Linked DNA regions of Homo sapiens: regions 2, 3, 4 and 5 are each reported to be linked to region 1. The links are microRNA targets in miRTarBase. Many come from high-throughput screens and were not tested one by one. Region 1 holds a microRNA gene; each other region holds the end of a gene's coding sequence.
Evidence for each region. Region 1 holds the annotated microRNA hsa-miR-3682-5p (CUACUUCUACCUGUGUUAUCAU, at 946-967, shown strand). A microRNA usually pairs through its seed, bases 2 to 8, with sites in the 3' UTR of a target mRNA and lowers its output. Matches are read on the target gene's strand: a 7mer-m8 pairs with bases 2 to 8, a 7mer-A1 pairs with bases 2 to 7 and ends in A, and an 8mer does both.

Region 2: the mRNA of RDH10 is a reported target of hsa-miR-3682-5p. Seed matches in the 3' UTR shown: 7mer-A1 at 1,104-1,110 and 7mer-m8 at 2,538-2,544.
Region 3: miRTarBase lists CEMIP2 as a target of hsa-miR-3682-5p. Seed matches in the 3' UTR shown: 7mer-m8 at 1,657-1,663.
Region 4: miRTarBase lists TXNDC12 as a target of hsa-miR-3682-5p. Seed matches in the 3' UTR shown: 7mer-m8 at 2,442-2,448.
Region 5: the mRNA of IRAG1 is a reported target of hsa-miR-3682-5p. Seed matches in the 3' UTR shown: 7mer-m8 at 974-980.

The regions. Positions count from the first base shown.
Region 1 is chr2:53,846,600-53,850,136 of GRCh38, reverse strand. MIR3682 (microRNA 3682) reads left to right here and starts at 932; the gene lies at 932-1,015. All of the region lies in intron 1 of GPR75-ASB3 (GPR75-ASB3 readthrough), which reads left to right.
Region 2 is chr8:73,322,470-73,326,006 of GRCh38, forward strand. RDH10 (retinol dehydrogenase 10) reads left to right here. Exons shown (of 6, transcript NM_172037.5): 5 at 210-341; 6 at 444-2,812. The coding sequence ends at 567. All of the region lies in intron 3 of RDH10-AS1 (RDH10 antisense RNA 1), which reads right to left. Among named protein-coding and RNA genes, the nearest start is that of RDH10, 30 kb to the left of the region's middle.
Region 3 is chr9:71,682,714-71,685,713 of GRCh38, forward strand. CEMIP2 (cell migration inducing hyaluronidase 2) reads right to left here. Exons shown (of 24, transcript NM_013390.3): 24 at 653-2,680. The coding sequence ends at 2,484. Among named protein-coding and RNA genes, the nearest start is that of CEMIP2, 84 kb to the right of the region's middle.
Region 4 is chr1:52,018,081-52,021,617 of GRCh38, forward strand. It overlaps TXNDC12 (thioredoxin domain containing 12), which reads right to left. Exons shown (of 7, transcript NM_015913.4): 7 at 2,051-2,932. The coding sequence ends at 2,853. Among named protein-coding and RNA genes, the nearest start is that of KTI12, 14 kb to the right of the region's middle.
Region 5 is chr11:10,573,218-10,576,754 of GRCh38, reverse strand. It overlaps IRAG1 (inositol 1,4,5-triphosphate receptor associated 1), which reads left to right. Exons shown (of 21, transcript NM_130385.4): 21 at 180-3,537. The coding sequence ends at 423. All of the region lies in intron 1 of IRAG1-AS1 (IRAG1 antisense RNA 1), which reads right to left. Among named protein-coding and RNA genes, the nearest start is that of LYVE1, 6.3 kb to the right of the region's middle.

The sequences.
Region 1 (3,537 bases):
TTTAGACTGATTTGCCTACCTACTCCCTCCTTCTTTCCCTTTCTCCCTCCCTCCTTCCCTTTTTCCCTTTTCTTTTTTTTAAGATGGAGTCTCATGCTTGTTGCCCAGGATGGAGTGCGGTGGCACAATCTCGGCTCACTGCAACCTCCGCCTCCCAGGTTCAAGCGATTCTCCTGTGTCAGCCTCCCGAGTAGCTGGGACTACAGGCACGCACCACCACTCCCAGCTAATTTTTGTATTTTTAATAGAGACAAGGTTTCACCAAGTTAGCCAGGCTGGTCTCAAACTTCTGACCTTGTGATCCACCCACCTCGGCCTACCTAAGTACTGGGATTACAGGCGTGAGCCAGTGCACTGGCCTATTATCTCTTTTTAACAAAGAATTAAGAAATCTAATATTCTTTCCCAAGATCGTACAAAGAATTGTGGCAAATTAGGAATTAGATTTTTGTCTTAATTCAAAACCTGGTATTTACCCCAGTGTGCCAAACAGCTTTATAATGAAGACAACATTAATCAAGCATCACATTTTTAAAGGCATATATCTATTTTTTTGGCTATGCAAAAAACCTTGTCTCTATTAAAAATACAAAAATTGGCTAGGCATTTCAAATGTGATACAATAAAATATTAACACAAAAGTAATTTCTATTTATAAAATTTAAAATGGCAGGTTTTCTGTGTGACGTTTGAGTTTGAGATGATTTGACTGGCATGAGGCCCATCATTGGGAGGTAAAAATTACAGCACAAAGAAAACTAAGCAGGTGCATATGAGGTATTGTCTCTTTATGCTCATCAAAAAATAATCTCCAAAAGAAAAGTTAAAAAAATTATTGTTATAAATTGCATGAAATACATAGTGGGCTCGATTCATAGCCCCCGTCCGTATCTATATCTCTATATCTATAGAGACATAACTTCTTTCTTCGTAAGTTATATATGTCTACTTCTACCTGTGTTATCATAATAAAGGTGTCATGATGATACAGGTGGAGGTAGAAATATATAACTTATCTCTTCATAAGGGCTAAAATGAGAACTAAAAGTAATGAGAATTCAGTTGAATATGATTAATTATCAGGATATGTTAATTAGTTCTCTTGATGCTTACTGTGATGCAAAGTATGTGACGTATTTTAAACATTTTATAATAATTGTTCGTATGTTAACCATTAGGCAAGATTTGTATTTCTAATGCTTTTAATGTTCTTTTAAAATAATGTTTGGAAAATAAAAATACTGAAAATCCTAACATTTCTGAACACCAGTTTGCAATATAATGAATTTCCTGTCTGATCATTTTAAAACTATCAGAGCATGGCAATGATCATTTTTGCCCAATGGATAACAATGTGTTGAACCACAGACAGAGAGCTCTTTGCCTTAAGAGATGAAATAACTTGTTTGACTATATATAAATTTTTTTTTTTTTTTGTAGAGACGGGGTCTCCCTATGTTGCCCAGGTTGGTCTCCAACTCATGGGCTCAAGCGATCCTCCCGCCTCAGCCTTCCAAAGTGCTGGGAATAGAGGCGTTACATTTTGTATCATATATGCTCAGACTAATCAAGGATAGTTAATGCCAAAGACTATTTACAAAACTAAGTTTCTTACTCAGTGAAAAGAGGCTAAATGAACATTTGAGCAACTCATTTAAATGAAATTTAGCTGGAAAAAGAAAAATTTTGAATTTTTGGTTTATCGATCAGGGTCTGGATTTAAGAATCAAAAAACATTAACATAAGCAGGAAAGCATTTAATATAGGAAACTAGATGTCTACAGAATGGTTAGATAGGGCTCTATGATGAGTCTCCAGGAAAGATTGCACCATAAACATGACCAGCCGGACCAGCCATAAATGCTACTACTTCTGCTCCAACCAAGAAGAGAGGAAGTCAGGAAGCCTACCTTGGACTTTTGACTTCAAGAACACACTGTTAAAGTTGTTGTCCACCAGTGAGGAAGTTGCTGCCACTACTATTTCCACAAAAAACTCTCTTGACACCTACAAAGCAAGTGGCTGAACAACAAGACACTGCTATAGAAAAAATCTGGCACCATGCAGTTAGATGGAGAAACTAAGTTTGCATCTAGAACCCTAGCTTCAGGGAAATCTGGAAAGTGTACTAACACAAAAGTATACTCAAAGGAGATGCAGAGTTCTAATCTGTTCTGTCCACAGAGGTTCACCTTGGTAGTCAACATTTGTTTTTTTTTTTGAGATGGGTTCTCACTCTGTTGCCCAAGCTGGAGTGTAGTGGTGCAATCTCGGCTCACTGCAACCTCCACCTCCTGGGTTCAAGCGATTTTCCTGCCTCAGCCTCCTGAGTAGCTGGGATTACAGGCATGCGCCAACACGCCCAGCTAATTTTTGTAGCAGAGACGGGGTTTCACCATGTTGGCCAGGCTGGTCTTGAACTCCTGACCTCAGGTGATCCACCCACCTCACCCTCCCAAAGTGCTGTGATTATAGGCGTGAGCCACTGCATCCGGCCAGTAGTCAACATTTTTTATACATACCTCTAGCCATACTCCCAAACAACAGCAGTAGCTATACCACCATTCTCCCTCTTGAAATAATGCAGCTTCTCTCATTTAAACAAAAATATGTACTTTGCTAGGCGCTGCATAGCAATCTCAGCACTTTGGGAGGCTGAAGTGGGAGGATCGCTTGAGCCCAGGAGTTTGAGACCCACCTGGGCAACGTGACAAAACCCCGTTTCTACAGAAAAGTTACTTGGGCATGGTGGCAGGTACCTGTAGTCCCAGCTACTGGGGAGGCTGAGGTGGGAAGATCGCCTGAGTGAGTCCAGGAGGCCTAGGCTGCAGTGAGCCAAGATCACACCAGTGCAATCCAGCCTGCAGTGAGATCCTGTCACAAAACAAAACAAAATAAAAAATGCATACTCTCCTCCAGAGGGAAGATGCTAAGTCTGATCAATCTCTGGGTTTCTCAGTGATGTTCATTATTCTTCTAGTTCAGTCAAAAATCTCAACGTGATATTCTGTAACCTAAGGACCAAATTATAAAATTTACCACCAACAAACAAATTTAATCATCAAGAGTAAAAAGAAGAAATTGGTTGAAAATGTTTCATAGACACACACACACACACACCAGGATAAAGAATAAATGGGGATTAGTACAGACTTTGCTTGCTTCCGTTGGTCAAGAAGCTGTGATTGGTATTTTATAATGTCCTCCACTTCCCATTTCCTATCCCTTTGCCATTAGCTAGCATGTCATGTAGTCTGAGAAAGTAAGTTTTATCAAATAGCAGAGGGAATGAAATACTAAGAAAACAAAATTTATAAAACATAATGTAGGATTACAGAAATAACTGGATAAATGGAAATGCTTAATATCATATATAAAAGAATTTATATATATGCTTAATATCATATATAATATCATATATAAAAGACAATTCGAATTAAAAAACAACATGAAGGCCAGGCGCGGTGGCTTGCGCCTGTAATCCCAGCACTTTGGGAGGCCGAGGTGAGCGGATCATTTGAGGTCAGGAGTTCAAGG
Region 2 (3,537 bases), not on the chromosome of region 1:
TTTTTTTCCCAACTTGTTCTCCAGACTGTGCCAATAAAATGTGTTCATAGCAGGAAAATTTGGAAAATACAGAAAAGCACTATGAAGAAAACAAAATGTACCCAAAATCCCATCACTCAGATAACATCACTGTTAATGTTTTGATATGTATTTCCAGTCTTTTCTATTGTGTTAATTTTTCATTTTGTTTTTGAATAAATAACTTTCAGGAAAGAAATTGAGCCTTTTCTGCCACCTCTGAAGCCTGATTACTGTGTGAAGCAGGCCATGAAGGCCATCCTCACTGACCAGCCCATGATCTGCACTCCCCGCCTCATGTACATCGTGACCTTCATGAAGAGGTAACTGGGAGGGGTTCCCTCACTGACTGGGTCTCTCCATGCCTGCCCGATGTCTTAATTGAAACTTCAAGTTTGCTAACAGCTGTGACTTCCCTTTTTCAGCATCCTACCATTTGAAGCAGTTGTGTGCATGTATCGGTTCCTAGGAGCGGACAAGTGTATGTACCCCTTTATTGCTCAAAGAAAGCAAGCCACAAACAATAATGAAGCAAAAAATGGAATCTAAGAATCTTTTTGTATGGAATATTACTTCTATCAGAAGATGATCAAGATGTTTCAGTCCAGTGCACATCAGCATTGCTGACATTTTATGGATTCTAAACTTGTGTTGTTTCTTTTTTAAATCAACTTTTTAAAAAAATAAAGTGTAAATTAACCGACTAGAGTACTTGGAAAATGTGATCAGTACAAGTGAACTTAGGTTGTTGCCAACAGGGTCCTTTTAGGCAGAACCCAGAAACCAGTCAAATCTGTAGAGAAGCAGTGTGACATCTTCAGGTTACCATTATTTTTTAATGAGCAGGAAGTCTAGAAATGATAACTAGACTGTATGTTTCATGTGTGTGATTTTTCAGAATTCCCAGAGTTTACTCATTCTTGTTATTAAACTCTAGCCAGTTGACATCTTCGCAATTTCAAGGACTGATAGTGCTGTATTTTCTCACGTTTTCTAAGTTTCCGTTTTGCAAGGCCTAGGTGACTTTTTCATGGTGTTTGTATGTTTAGCTCTTTTGAAAAGGAATTTTGAAATCTCCATCAACTGAAGTAAATGATGTCTGAGTGTTACAGTAAAGGTGACCAAGTCTCTTTCTTAAAGTCACAATGACTAAAGTATTAGTTGAATTTTTTTTTTTTTTTTTTTGATGGAGTCTCGCTCTGTCACCAGGCTGGAGTGCAGTAGCACAATCACGGCTCACTGCAATCTCTGCCTCCCAGTTTCAAGTGATTCTGCTGTCTCAGCCTCCCAAGTAGCTGGGACTACAGGCATGCGCCACCACGCCCAGCTAATTTTTGTATTTTTAGTAGAGACGGGGTTTCACCATGTTGGTCAGGATGGTCTCCATCTCTTGACATTGTGATCCACCTGCCTCGGCCTCCCAAAGTGCTGGGATTACAGGCATGAGCCACTGCACCCAGCCTTGAATTTTTAATTTTATCTCTGATATACTTCATTAAGTGTCTGGAGACCTAATTATCCTAAAAGATCATACATTTTCTACCTATGAATTTTGCTGCATACAGAAAGTGCCCTTTCCTCAGGAAGTTGCTGTGTTTCATTTCTTTGGATGGACTCTTATCTAGAATACATAGCAGCTCTGCAAAGGAACAGTTTTTAAAAATGGGAACTTCTACATTGAAAAGTCCCCATTTTTGTGCCAACTATGATTAGTGAGAGGAAGAAATCTTATTCTATGGCATATGTATGGAAGGGTGTAAAGATTCTTTTGAAAGGTTTATTCACATTGTAGAACAGCAAATGACATTTTTACAGTATTTTTTTGTAAAGCAAACTATTTTGTGCCTTGAATTTGGTATATGTGTATTAGTGAAACATTGTAAAGGTGAACTTCTACCTCTGTATCTAAATGTATACCATCCACTTGTAAATGACTATAAACTATTATGTGATTGCTTTTTTTTTTAGAATGTCTTGTTTAAATAGTGGCCAATGTTTAAGGCTGTTAAAATAAGCCAACTTTTACTAATTGGGGAGTTTTATAAATGACTGATTAAATTTAAAGAATTAACTTACATGCAATTGTGTGATTATTAGTTATCAGCAGTGTTGTAAGGAAAATTATTGTGTTTTTTTTTATGATCATTATCCCACTTTAGGTAAAGAAAAATATTGGAATGGAATAGTGTTGGGAAACAGACATTAACAACCTAGGGTGCCTGCACTCAAATAGCCGATGTTACTGTCCCTAGATTAGAGACTTGATTAAGGGCTTGTTTGTACCAAAAGTGGGGAAACAATGCCATGACCTGTGTTTTAGTTTGGCTGCACCACAGATCAAATCTGCACTGTGTCTACATATAGGAAAGGTCCTGGTGTGTGCTAATGTTCCCAATGCAGGACTTGAGGAAGAGCTCTGTTATATGTTTCCATTTCTCTTTATCAAAGATAACCAAACCTTATGGCCCTTATAACAATGGAGGCACTGGCTGCCTCTTAATTTTCAATCATGGACCTAAAGAAGTACTCTGAAGGGTCTCAACAATGCCAGGTGGGGACAGATATACTCAGAGATTATCCAGGTCTGCCTCCCAGCGAGCCTGGAGTACACCAGACCCTCCTAGAGAAATCTGTTATAATTTAACAACCCACTTATCCACCTTAAAACTGAGGAAAGTCGTCTTTACATCTAATTTTATTCTTGTGTGTTATAACTTAAACCTATTTCTATTTTTGTTTGTTATTGCCCTTATAAGGGTGTCCATCTCCAAGTTCAATAAACTAATTCATTTAACTTTTTTGTAGAAGTCTTTCATTCCCATGTCCCAGCCCAGTTCAATCACTTCTGTGGCTCTTCCTTGAATGTTGTCCATATTCTCCCTCCCATCTTTAGCTGTGGAGTTTGGAAAGGGATACAGTTAATGCAGGTTTAGAACTATGGAATTCCTACAAGTTGCATTTCTTCATCCCAATGTCACGTTCTTATTAATGCTACATTGCTGATTGTGTGCATTATTGTTTCTAAACATGAAATCTCTTCTAGACAAGTCTGCCTGTTTGTGTTGATCACTTATGTAATTGCCAAGGTTGCTTTTCTGGCTGGTTATTTATCTACACCTGCCCCCACCCCTTAACATGAATGCTGACTTTGAATATGTTCTCTTTTTTGTCATCTGGCCCATTCATGTGAATGTTCAGGGCCACTGCACTCAAGGCTGATCCCCTAAGGAGCACCACCTCTGTCTGTGAGCACCACCCCCAGCTCATACTGGCACTCTCCCTTTCTCTAACCTTTCAACCAATTTAATGATAATTATATTGAGTGGGACCCAGGAATCAAAAGTTTTGAAGCCAACAAACATAAATTCCAACTATTGTTTTCCCCCTTGATCTACCAGGTCTGCTGCTCTGTCACAAAAGATTAGATTAGCCTGACAGGATTGAGCTACGTAAAGCCAGGCTGGGGTGTGTGTGTGTGTGTGTGTGTGTGTGTGTGTGTGTGTGTGTGTGTGTGTGTGT
Region 3 (3,000 bases), not on the chromosome of region 1:
CCAGGGAGCTTTAAAAAAAATTCCAGTGCTCAGGCTGCACCCAACACCAATTAAATCTGAATCTGGGGGGAAGGGAGTAAAGTCCAGGCCTCTATATTTTTTTTTAAAGCTCCTCAGGTAATTCCAGTGTGCAGCCAAGATGGAGAACCTCTGCCTTGGAGAATACAGTCCCTGCCCTTCTGAAGCTTACTCTTACAATATTTACTTGGTGGATTCTGTCCACCAAGTGTCTTCCTCACTTCCGTCAGTAACTTCTTTACAGCTGGAATCTGGAATTTTAAATTTATAGATAGAGATATAAATTCACATACAGGCCAGGCGCGGTGGCTCATGCCTGTAATGCTAGCACTTTGGGAGGCCAAAGCAGGAGTATCACTTGAGGTCAGGAGTTCAAGACCAGCCTGGCCAACACGGTGAAACCCCACTTCTACTAAAAATACAAAAATTAGCAGTGCATGGTGGCGGGTGCCTGTAATCCCAGCTACTTGGGAGGCTGAGGCAGGAGAATCACTTGAACCTGGGAGGTGGAGGTTGCAGCGAGCTGAGACTGCATCACCTCACTCCAGCCTGGGTGACAGAGCGAGACTCCATCTCAAAAATAATAACAATAATAATAAAATAAATAATAAATAAATTCACATACACACATATATAAAATACATGCACACATATTTTTATTTAACTTAGGCCCTGATTATTAGTATATAAAACAGAAAAACCAAGTGCCTTGGTAATTTACATATCTTCTCCAAATCTTTAAAGAACCAAGCTCTAAAAAACACACGTAAAGATATTTAAGTCATAAAACACACACACACACACACACACACACACACACTCTAATGACCTTCAGGAACCATAATCCAATAATATATTTAATAGGTAAGATCTCATTCATCAATATACAAAAAAAAAAAACAAACCAGAAAACAAAAAACTAACTTTGATTAAGACATGTGCCCTTAGTAAGGGCACTTACAATTAGAAAGGTTTATCGGTAGCACTTTGAGGTAGCATATTTTGTAAAGTCACAGGGCTGCTCTGCAGTTTCTCCTGGATACAAAGGTAGAGGCCATCAGCCTTTGCCCCTAGAAGAGGAAAGTGAAATTATCTGTACTCATTGCCAGTGTCAGCCTGAACACACTTTCTACCACCCACCCTTGGCCATCCCTCCTCTACACTTTATGCGTCGGGGGTTTAGAACAACGTAAAGGCATTTTGCTGCTTCTTTCCTCTTGGTACGGCAGCATCCCAGGCTGTGGAGCCAGTTGCCTCTTGCCGCATGTGATTCACCAGCAGGAGACGCATGCACCCTGTGGAAAGGGAAGCTGGGCATCACAGCATGCTTTTTAATTGGCTTTAACATTTCATTAAGTAAGAGTGACTCATTCCTGCAAGGCTTTAAAGAGGTTCATTTCTGAGTATTCTCTCCACGATTCTGACCCTAGAAAGCGCTCCTTTTTTTCCTCCCTGGGTGTAATCATTTTGGGGTATCATTAAGCTTTCTGGGATTTTCCTGGCAGGAGGGTGAACAGAAAAGCTTTAAAAAATCCACACAAAACAATAACAAAAAACCCAAGTGCAAGAGCAATACCAAGAACAGACTTCCTTTGTGCAAGTTAAAATGATACAAGTTTACGGTTCAGGAAAACAACCTACTTCTTAAAACAAAACAAAACAAAACAAAAAAGGAAATATTCAGTTGAGCTCTGCATTTTAAACACAAATATACAGTCAAAAGAGGCTAAGGATTAAAGCTGCAAAAATGGTCCCAACAGCCTCAGACTTTTGCTGCAGGAAAATTTTTTGCCCAATGGTCACAGATTAAAGGGATATCTAATCCCCAAGAGCCCTTTTGTCCCAATATACTTCCTGTTTGAAAGTTTAACCCTTACAAGTAATTGATATATAAGTGAATAAAAATAGCACATGTCCAGGCAAAAAAGGGCATGAGCTGGGCCTGAGTTGCCACTTAAAACTGTCATTCAATATCATAGAAAATCCTCAAAGGCTGCCCAGAAACAGGGCCCCAGGCACTGCTGAACATGCCAGCCACCAAGTCAACTGCCACCCGACCCAACTGAGCATTAAACTTCAAGTATCCAAGGTGCTACAATAGCTGGTCCTCTAAAGACCTCAGGCTGACTCTCAGAAGCCCCCACTCCACCCCACCCCATTATACAAAAAGTAAAAACATTGCTCATGGTCATTACAAAATACGGGGGTGGAAAGTGAGGAATAAGAGATCTGCTCTCTGAATACACCAGCCTTACAAATACAAACAACGTCTTTAACATTTTGTACAACTAGAAGGTGCATGAAGCTGGTATCCAAGCAATAATTTCAAACGCTTTCTTTTCTCCCCATTCTGTATCAAACTGGAAAATGGTTCCGTTGGGTTAACAGTGTCATTTTAAAATGCCATAAATTAAATAAGTTAGTTCACATTTTTTTTCCCCCAGCACTTAAGTTACAGTTAGTCTCTAATGTGCTTTTGAAGCTTGCTTTAGCAGTTCCAGGTCTCTTCTGCGGACAGTGGTGGCTCTGGGACAACCATATTCGTCCAGCTGCAAAGGTATGAATTGTTCAAGCACCCCAAGGCCCTGTCCAGCAGGACTGGTAAATAGCTTAGTCCATGATGGTTTAAAGTTTCCACTGAATCCCAAAAATATGGTACTCCCTAAAAAAAAAAAAAAAAAAGAAAAAGAAAAAAAATCAATTTTTATAGCTACATTCCAGCAAGAGAATATAGGAGGTGAGTCGGAGGTGAGCAAAACAAAGGCAGCTATTAAAAAACTCTGCACTTCCTTACATCAGCAAATGAACTCTCACCACCCACCTTTTGCCCCAGATAACAAACCACATCCCAACACACTTCCTCTCACATTGTGCCCTTATTTAGAAATCATCTTAATGATACCCACTCCAGCAAACAAGCTCATGAAAATGGTCTGGTAGCTGAATTGCACCATAAAATTACCTATGTTGCTGGCCCTGTAA
Region 4 (3,537 bases), not on the chromosome of region 1:
TGGTGGGGGGGCTCCTGTAATCCCTGCTACTCAGGAGGCTGAAGCAGGAGAATAGCTTGAACCCAGGAGGCAGAGGTTACAGTGAGCCGAGATCACACCACGGGACTCCAGCCTGGGTGACAAGAGCGAGACTCCATCCCCCCCAAAAAAAAAAAAAAAAAAAAAACAAATTAGATGAGCATGGTGATGGGTGCCTGTAATCCCTGCTGCTTGGGAGGCAGAGGCAGGAGAATCGCTTGAATCCGGGAGGCATTCAATGTTGCGGTGAGCCAAGACCTCGCCATTGCACTCCAGCCTGGGCAATAAGAGCGAAACTCCGTCTCAAACAACAACAACAACAACAACAACAACAAAAGAACCTGGCTAGTCTTTGCCTTCTCTAAAGTTCCCCCTAAAATGACGTTACTAATACCTATCCCACAGGACCACTGATGGTGTTTAGAGAATGGATGAAAAGAACCTAACATAGACCTTGGCAAGTCACCTGAAAGTTTTAGATACACAGGACAGAGGACTAGCTTCTGCCCTCGAGGAGAATGGCCACCTGATGACAGCCCCAGATGTGCAATTGGGTTACTTCAATGTAAAGTGGTCCAGGGCTATGATAGATGTATTGGGGAAAGGATATTTTATCCTCATGAGAAAGATCAGGGAAGACTCTCTGGAAGAAGTGGCTCAAAATGGGTATGAAGGAAGAACAGAAAGAACATATTTTAGGCTGAGGAAACAAGATGAACGAAGATAGAAAAGCATAAAACAGCATGTTGTCAGGAGAACTCAAAGCAATTTGGTGTCACAAGAACACATAATGCAAAAACATAAATGGGAATAAATGAGGTTGAAGAAGTAGGCAGCTTCTTAAAGGCCATGGTAAAGATCTTGACTTTATCCTGTGTCTTGGCTTCCTTATGTTTCAAATTCTTCCTCTGTACTCTGGGAGTACAGTAGTACCTTTATCACAGGGCTGTTAGGAGTACTAAAGTGAAACTAAATGGGATAACATATATAAAGCACTTAGAAGAGTACTTGGCACAGACTGAGGTTCAAATATCTCCTACCATTAATACTATTATCTTAAAGATGGCTGGAAAGGTTTTTTTTTTTTTTTTTTTTTTTTTTTTTTTTGAGATGGAGTTTCACTCTTGTTGCCCAGGCTGGAGTGCAATGGCACAATCTCAGTTCACCACAACCTCCGCCTCCCGGGTTCAAGCGATTCTCCTGCCTCAGCCTCCTGAGTAGCTGGGATTACAGGCATGTGCCACCACATCCGGCTAATTTTGTTGTTTTTGTTTTGTTTTGTTTTTTTGAGACGGAGTCTCGCTCTGTCACCCAGGCTGGAGTGCAGTGGTGCGATCTCGGTTCCCTGCAAGCTCCGCCTCCCGGGTTCACGCCATTTTCCTGCTTCAGCCTCCCGAGTAACTGGGACTACAGGCGCCCACCACCGCGCCTGGCTAATTTTTTTTTTTTTTTTTGTATTTTTAGTAGAGACGGGGTTTCACCGTGGTCTCGATCTCCCGACCTCGTGATCCGCCCGCCTCGGCCTCCCAAAGTGCCGGGATTACAGGCGTGAGTCACCGCGCCCGGCCTAATTTTGTATTTTTAGTAGAGCCGGGGTTTCGCCATGTTGGCCAGGCTGGTCTCGAACTCCCTACCTCAGGTGATTCGCCCACCTTGGCCTCCCAAAGTGCTGGGAGTACAGGCGTGAGCCACTGTGTCCAGCCAGGAAAGGTTTTAAACAGGGGAGTGATATGGATCGATTGCAGGAGGAGGGAATATTAGAGCCAATAGGCAAGTTAAGGGGCTATAGCAATAAATAGTCGAAGAGAGAAAAAGCCTGCCCCGTGCTAAAACAGTGATAGTGTGGACAGAGGAAATTCAGGTATTTAAAAAGTAAAAGAGAGGAGCCATTGTGCTCATTTGAATGTGGGAGGTGAAGGAGCAGGAGTCCTAGGTTAGGACTCCTAGATTAGGTCCTCTAGGTTAGTTTTCTTCCTGAAGTGATCTCCATCCCTCCCTCCTTTTCCAATAACAAAAAGGCCATCACAGCACATTTCCTTTTAAAGTTTTATTAAAGTTTAATGGTACAATATTTTATCTCTTTTTTTGTTAATGCCAGTACAAAAATACAGTTGATGACTTGACAAAATGGCTACACCTAGGGCTTGAAGGTTTGAGTTTCTCCAACAGTAACAAGGGAAAGCATGCTTCCACCTGGAGCCGAGTCCAAGCACACAGCCAGTCCTGCACACGCATGCGTGCAAACAGGGAAGCTCAAGCATGAGAAGAGGAAAGAGGCTGTAGAAATTTGGGAAGAAGCCCACAATTATTCCCAGGAGAAAAAAGGGAAAAAACAGGCTGATATCCTTGGTAGGGGGTAGAATAACTGATTTACACTTAGGATTTATTGTTATTGTTGTTGTTGTTGTTTTTTAATGATAAGCTACTTCTGCAATTTTAACGTTGTAGAAAAGATGCTACTAGTCTCCTTTCACCACTAAGGTGAGTAAAGTGGGAGGAAATGGGAAAAGACTCAAATACTTAAGTGCGAGGAGTAAACATCCAAGTGGCTCAAGTTTTGTGTCAGAAGGTTTCATTCTTTACATTCAATGACAAGTTGACATTTAGGTGAGAGGGAAAAGGAGAAGAAAGTCTGCCACTCTCCGCTGGATCCACAAACATGCAGACCAGCTTCTGTTAGCAGAACTCTTCCACAGTGAGAGCGCTCCTTCCAGTGTAGGTAGGAATGAGGTTTCCTGGTCGGCTTAATTGTTCTAGATGATTCCTCAATATTCCCTTCCCTGCTGCTTTCCTTCCAGAACACTAACTCTGATGAAAGAAGGGGCACATTCATGTTACAATTCATCTTCAAGATGTTTCTTTCTGAAGGCATCACCCGTCAGCCTTTCCTGAGCTTCCTTCATCCCCTGAACAACTGTGAAATAAAGATTGGAGGAAAAAAGTATGAAGTAAGTAATGTTTGACATTTGACAACCAATGTACACTTTTAAATGTTTCAGAAGAAATATGAGAGGAGTACAAGATCTGGACTCAAGATCTAGCTCTGGATTTTGGCCCTGGCAAGTCATTTATCTCTTTGAATTTGTTTCCTCATTTATAAAATGAAATAATGTAACTCACTTCACACAGTATTATAAAAGTTAAATGGGAGAATGGATAATAAAAGTGCTTTATCAACTACGAAGTCATACCAAAATCTTAGCAGTTATTTTGGCTTACCCTCTAGGATTAGAGCTGATCCCCTGTCCTAGACTGTAGATGTTCACTTCACCCCCAGGGAAGAGGAAACACCTTCCTACCGTCCCCATTGTATCTTTTGGATGAATGTTGCACTTATTTTACTTCCTGTGGAGGTTACAGATTACACTGAGGGGTGTGTGTGCTGGGGCGGGGGTGTCTCTACTGAAGGGGGTCGTCATTTCCAGTATCAACTATACATGGATGAAGCCAAGTTCTCAGGCCAAAAAAAAAAAAAAAAAAAAAGAGAGAGAGAAACCTGGAAGGAGGGCCTTAAGTAGA
Region 5 (3,537 bases), not on the chromosome of region 1:
CTCATTTAGTATGCTTGGGGTATTTTGAACAATTGCTGCCAACCCAATCTAGGCACAGCTAAGTTTGAGAACTATTGCTCAAGACAGCATGGAAGCTATCCGCAGAGAGAACTGTGGGTCTGTGTATCATATGTGTGCCCAGTATACTAAAGCCTCTGCATATTTTTTTTCATTGACAGCAAACTTGAAGAATTGGTCCATTTCTTACAAGTCATGTATCCCAAACTGTGTCAGCACTGGCAAGTGATCTGGATGATGGCTGCAGTGATGCTGGTCTTGACTGTTGTGCTGGGGCTCTACAATTCCTATAACTCTTGTGCAGAGCAGGCTGATGGGCCCCTTGGAAGATCCACTTGCTCGGCAGCCCAGAGGGACTCCTGGTGGAGCTCAGGACTCCAGCATGAGCAGCCTACAGAGCAGTAGGAAACCTCACACCTAGCCAGTGCCCTGCTCTGAGACACTCAGACTACCACCCTTTCCCCAAGTATAACGTCAGGCCCAAGTGTGGACACACTGCCGCCCATCCCATCAGGTCATGAGGAAGGGTTCTTTTAACACTCGGCACTTCTGTGGGAGCTATTCATACACAGTGACTTGATGTTCTTGGAGGATCAACAAAACTGCCCTGGGAAAGCATCCAGTGGATGAAGAAGTCACCTTCACCAAGGAACTCTATTGGAAGGGAAGGTCTCCTGCCCCTAGCTCAGGTGGCTGGGGAGAACTAAAACACCTTCACTGGTGGTTGGGGGTAAGGAGCGGGGCACGGGGGAGGAGGAGGTAGGGGGCAGTAAAAAACTTACTCTCTTTTTTCCTCTCTGTAATTGGTTATCAGGAAGAATTTGCTTAATGACTAACACCCTAAGCATCAGACCTGGAATTTGGAGTTGCAAAGTGACTATCTTCCCATTTCCCATCTCATTTTCAATAACTTCAGCCTCCCATTCTTTCCTTTGGAATGAGAGTTTCTTTTTACAGAAGTAGGAAAGGCTTCTCAGAAAAAAAAAAAAAAGTATAGGCTGAATTTAGCTCAGTGCTTGAAATGGGAAGATATGAATTATTATATACGCATCTGTCCACACATACACACATACTGTTGTGTACACACACACAACATGCCTGTGCACAGAGCCAACAACCCTTCAAAAGTGTGCTCTGGGTGTGTACCTCTGGATAAATAAGATGCATGCCAAGCCAACCCACAGATTTTCACCAGTGTGGGGCAGTCACCAGGCACCTGTTCAATGAGCTGTCCACATGGATTGAAGATGTTTTAAAAACACAGAAAACTCATGGCTTCAATGGCAGACTTACTAGTCTCCATTTCAAATGCCAACTCTGAGCTGCTGTACAGCACAATCTATTCCCTATTCTCTCTTTGAAAACAGTTAACCCACCTCACAGGTGAATGAGGAGAGAAGATGTGCTTTCTGCTTCAGTCTCTTACTCTGTGTGTGACCACATGCAAGAGTAAACTTGCACCTCAGTGCTTCAGTTCAAATGGGGTTTCCAACCCCAGTATAATTAGGGGTGTTTCAGAGCATCCCCAGTTATTTAGCACAACACTGAAGGAGCACATCCCCTCTCCATTTTGACTTCTCTCCCCACTTTTACAGCCACTGCCTTCATCAGTTTTGTAGAGGTTTGATTTCCATGTGGGTTTTGTTGTCATTGTTTTGCATTTTTGTTTTGTTATTGATATTGTTTGCTTTCATTGCTAAAACTCATATACGACTTACTATGAGCCAAGCACTGTTCTCAGTATTACATAGGTATGAATTCATTTAAGTCCTGAAGAAAAAGAAAAAAAAATACGAAGTGGATATTACCCTTCCCATTTTCAAATAAGGAAACTGAAGCACAAAAAGAACAAGTAACTTGACAAGGACACCCCGGTAGTAAATCATGGGGCTGGAGCTCAACCCCAGGGTAGGCTGGCTCCAGAGCTGTGCTCTCCTTGACTCTTCTGATGGTCTCCTAGCTGGAAGCCTCACATTTCAGTCTCATTCCCCCAAGTGGCCCATCAGCTACTCCATCTCTGGCTCCCCAACTAAACAGTTTCTCTCATAGTGCTGGACCTCCACTCACTAGTTTTTTTTCCAGCTGTTCTTCTCTTTTCTTCAGGTCACTCTTCTCGACCGAGTGCAAAAATTATCCCCTCCATACCAGCTTTGATGACCTTCCTTCCATACTCCTCACCAGACACAACATAATAGGTCACACACTCCTCTGTGCTTTCTGGCACGTTTTAAACATTATTATTATTGACCTTTACCTATAGTATACCATGGCCTATTTATGTATCCATCTCCCCTAGCATTTTTCCTCAAAGACAAGAACCATGTCTTACCCATCTCTTGGGTAAGTGCCTAGCATGGTGGCTGACGCTTGGGAGGGTGTCATTAAATGTTGCTCAAAAGAACAAGCAAACATTTAAGGTGGTGGAGAGCAGCCTGGGGACAGCTGACATGCTGCATGCTTCTCAGTACCAGCACCATCACAATGCAAAAAGCAACATCTTTCTTAACCTCAGCTTATTCTGTTTTTCAGTCTACTCTGTGAGAGAGCAGGAATGAGACCAGACTAGCAACACCATTGCCAAGCTCAAGGACTGGGCTCAATGCAGTCACTCCTTCAGAGAGACCCCCCACCCCAAGCATGCCCCACTTTAAAATAGCATGTTTATTGAAGGGGGCATCCTTTACAGTAGCTAGAAAATGACTGAGGCCCAAGCCAGGGTTGATCAAGGATGTGCCATTAAGGTAAAGAGTTACAGAGCAGGGCAGAGGGACTCTGGGGGCAGAAGTGGATGATTTGCCCGGCCTCTTCCAGGGGGTCTGGATACAACTGAAGGAGCTTTAGCTACATGAGGCCCTCAGAGCCAAAGACAGGATGCAAATAGAGTTCTAGAGAGTGGCCGTGGAAGCAGAACTCCAGGTGGGGAATGTTCAATCTCTGCCTCCCTTAAAGCAGGGCCAGGCTCAGCTGGCCCCATTGTTCACTTGGTCACAAGTTTCCTACCTTTGTTTCTGGATGAGTCAAAGGCCAGGAAGGCAGTTATGGAGAGCTCCTGCACCTCCAGCTGCCCCACAGAAAAGCCTGCAAGAGTACTTCCAGGCACAGGCCCTCTCCCACCCTATTCCATTTGTAAGCAAGGGAGGTCGAGGAAAAGGACATCTCCAAAAGGGAGCATAAGAATAGCCATATATACAGGGGCTGAAAAAGTGCTCATGAGTCCATCTTTTCTGGAAAGCAAAGACCAGCCTGAAGCAGTGGGAGCTGCTGCCCAAGCGGTAGTGAACTGGAGAGAAACAGGCCCTGGATTTTCAGTGAGGATGTGGATCTGAAGAGTCCCCCAAATGCCTCTGAAGTCTGACATCTCTGCTTAGCCCTAGGAGTCTGGTTCCCTGCCTTCAGTTGCAGAGTGATGTGTTTGTGTCATTGTTGATGTCACCTCCTAAAAAGACCTTCACTTTCTGGCTGCCACAAAGCCATATGTGTTGCTCCCCATATACAGCCTGACAGAGTAAATGGAGAGGA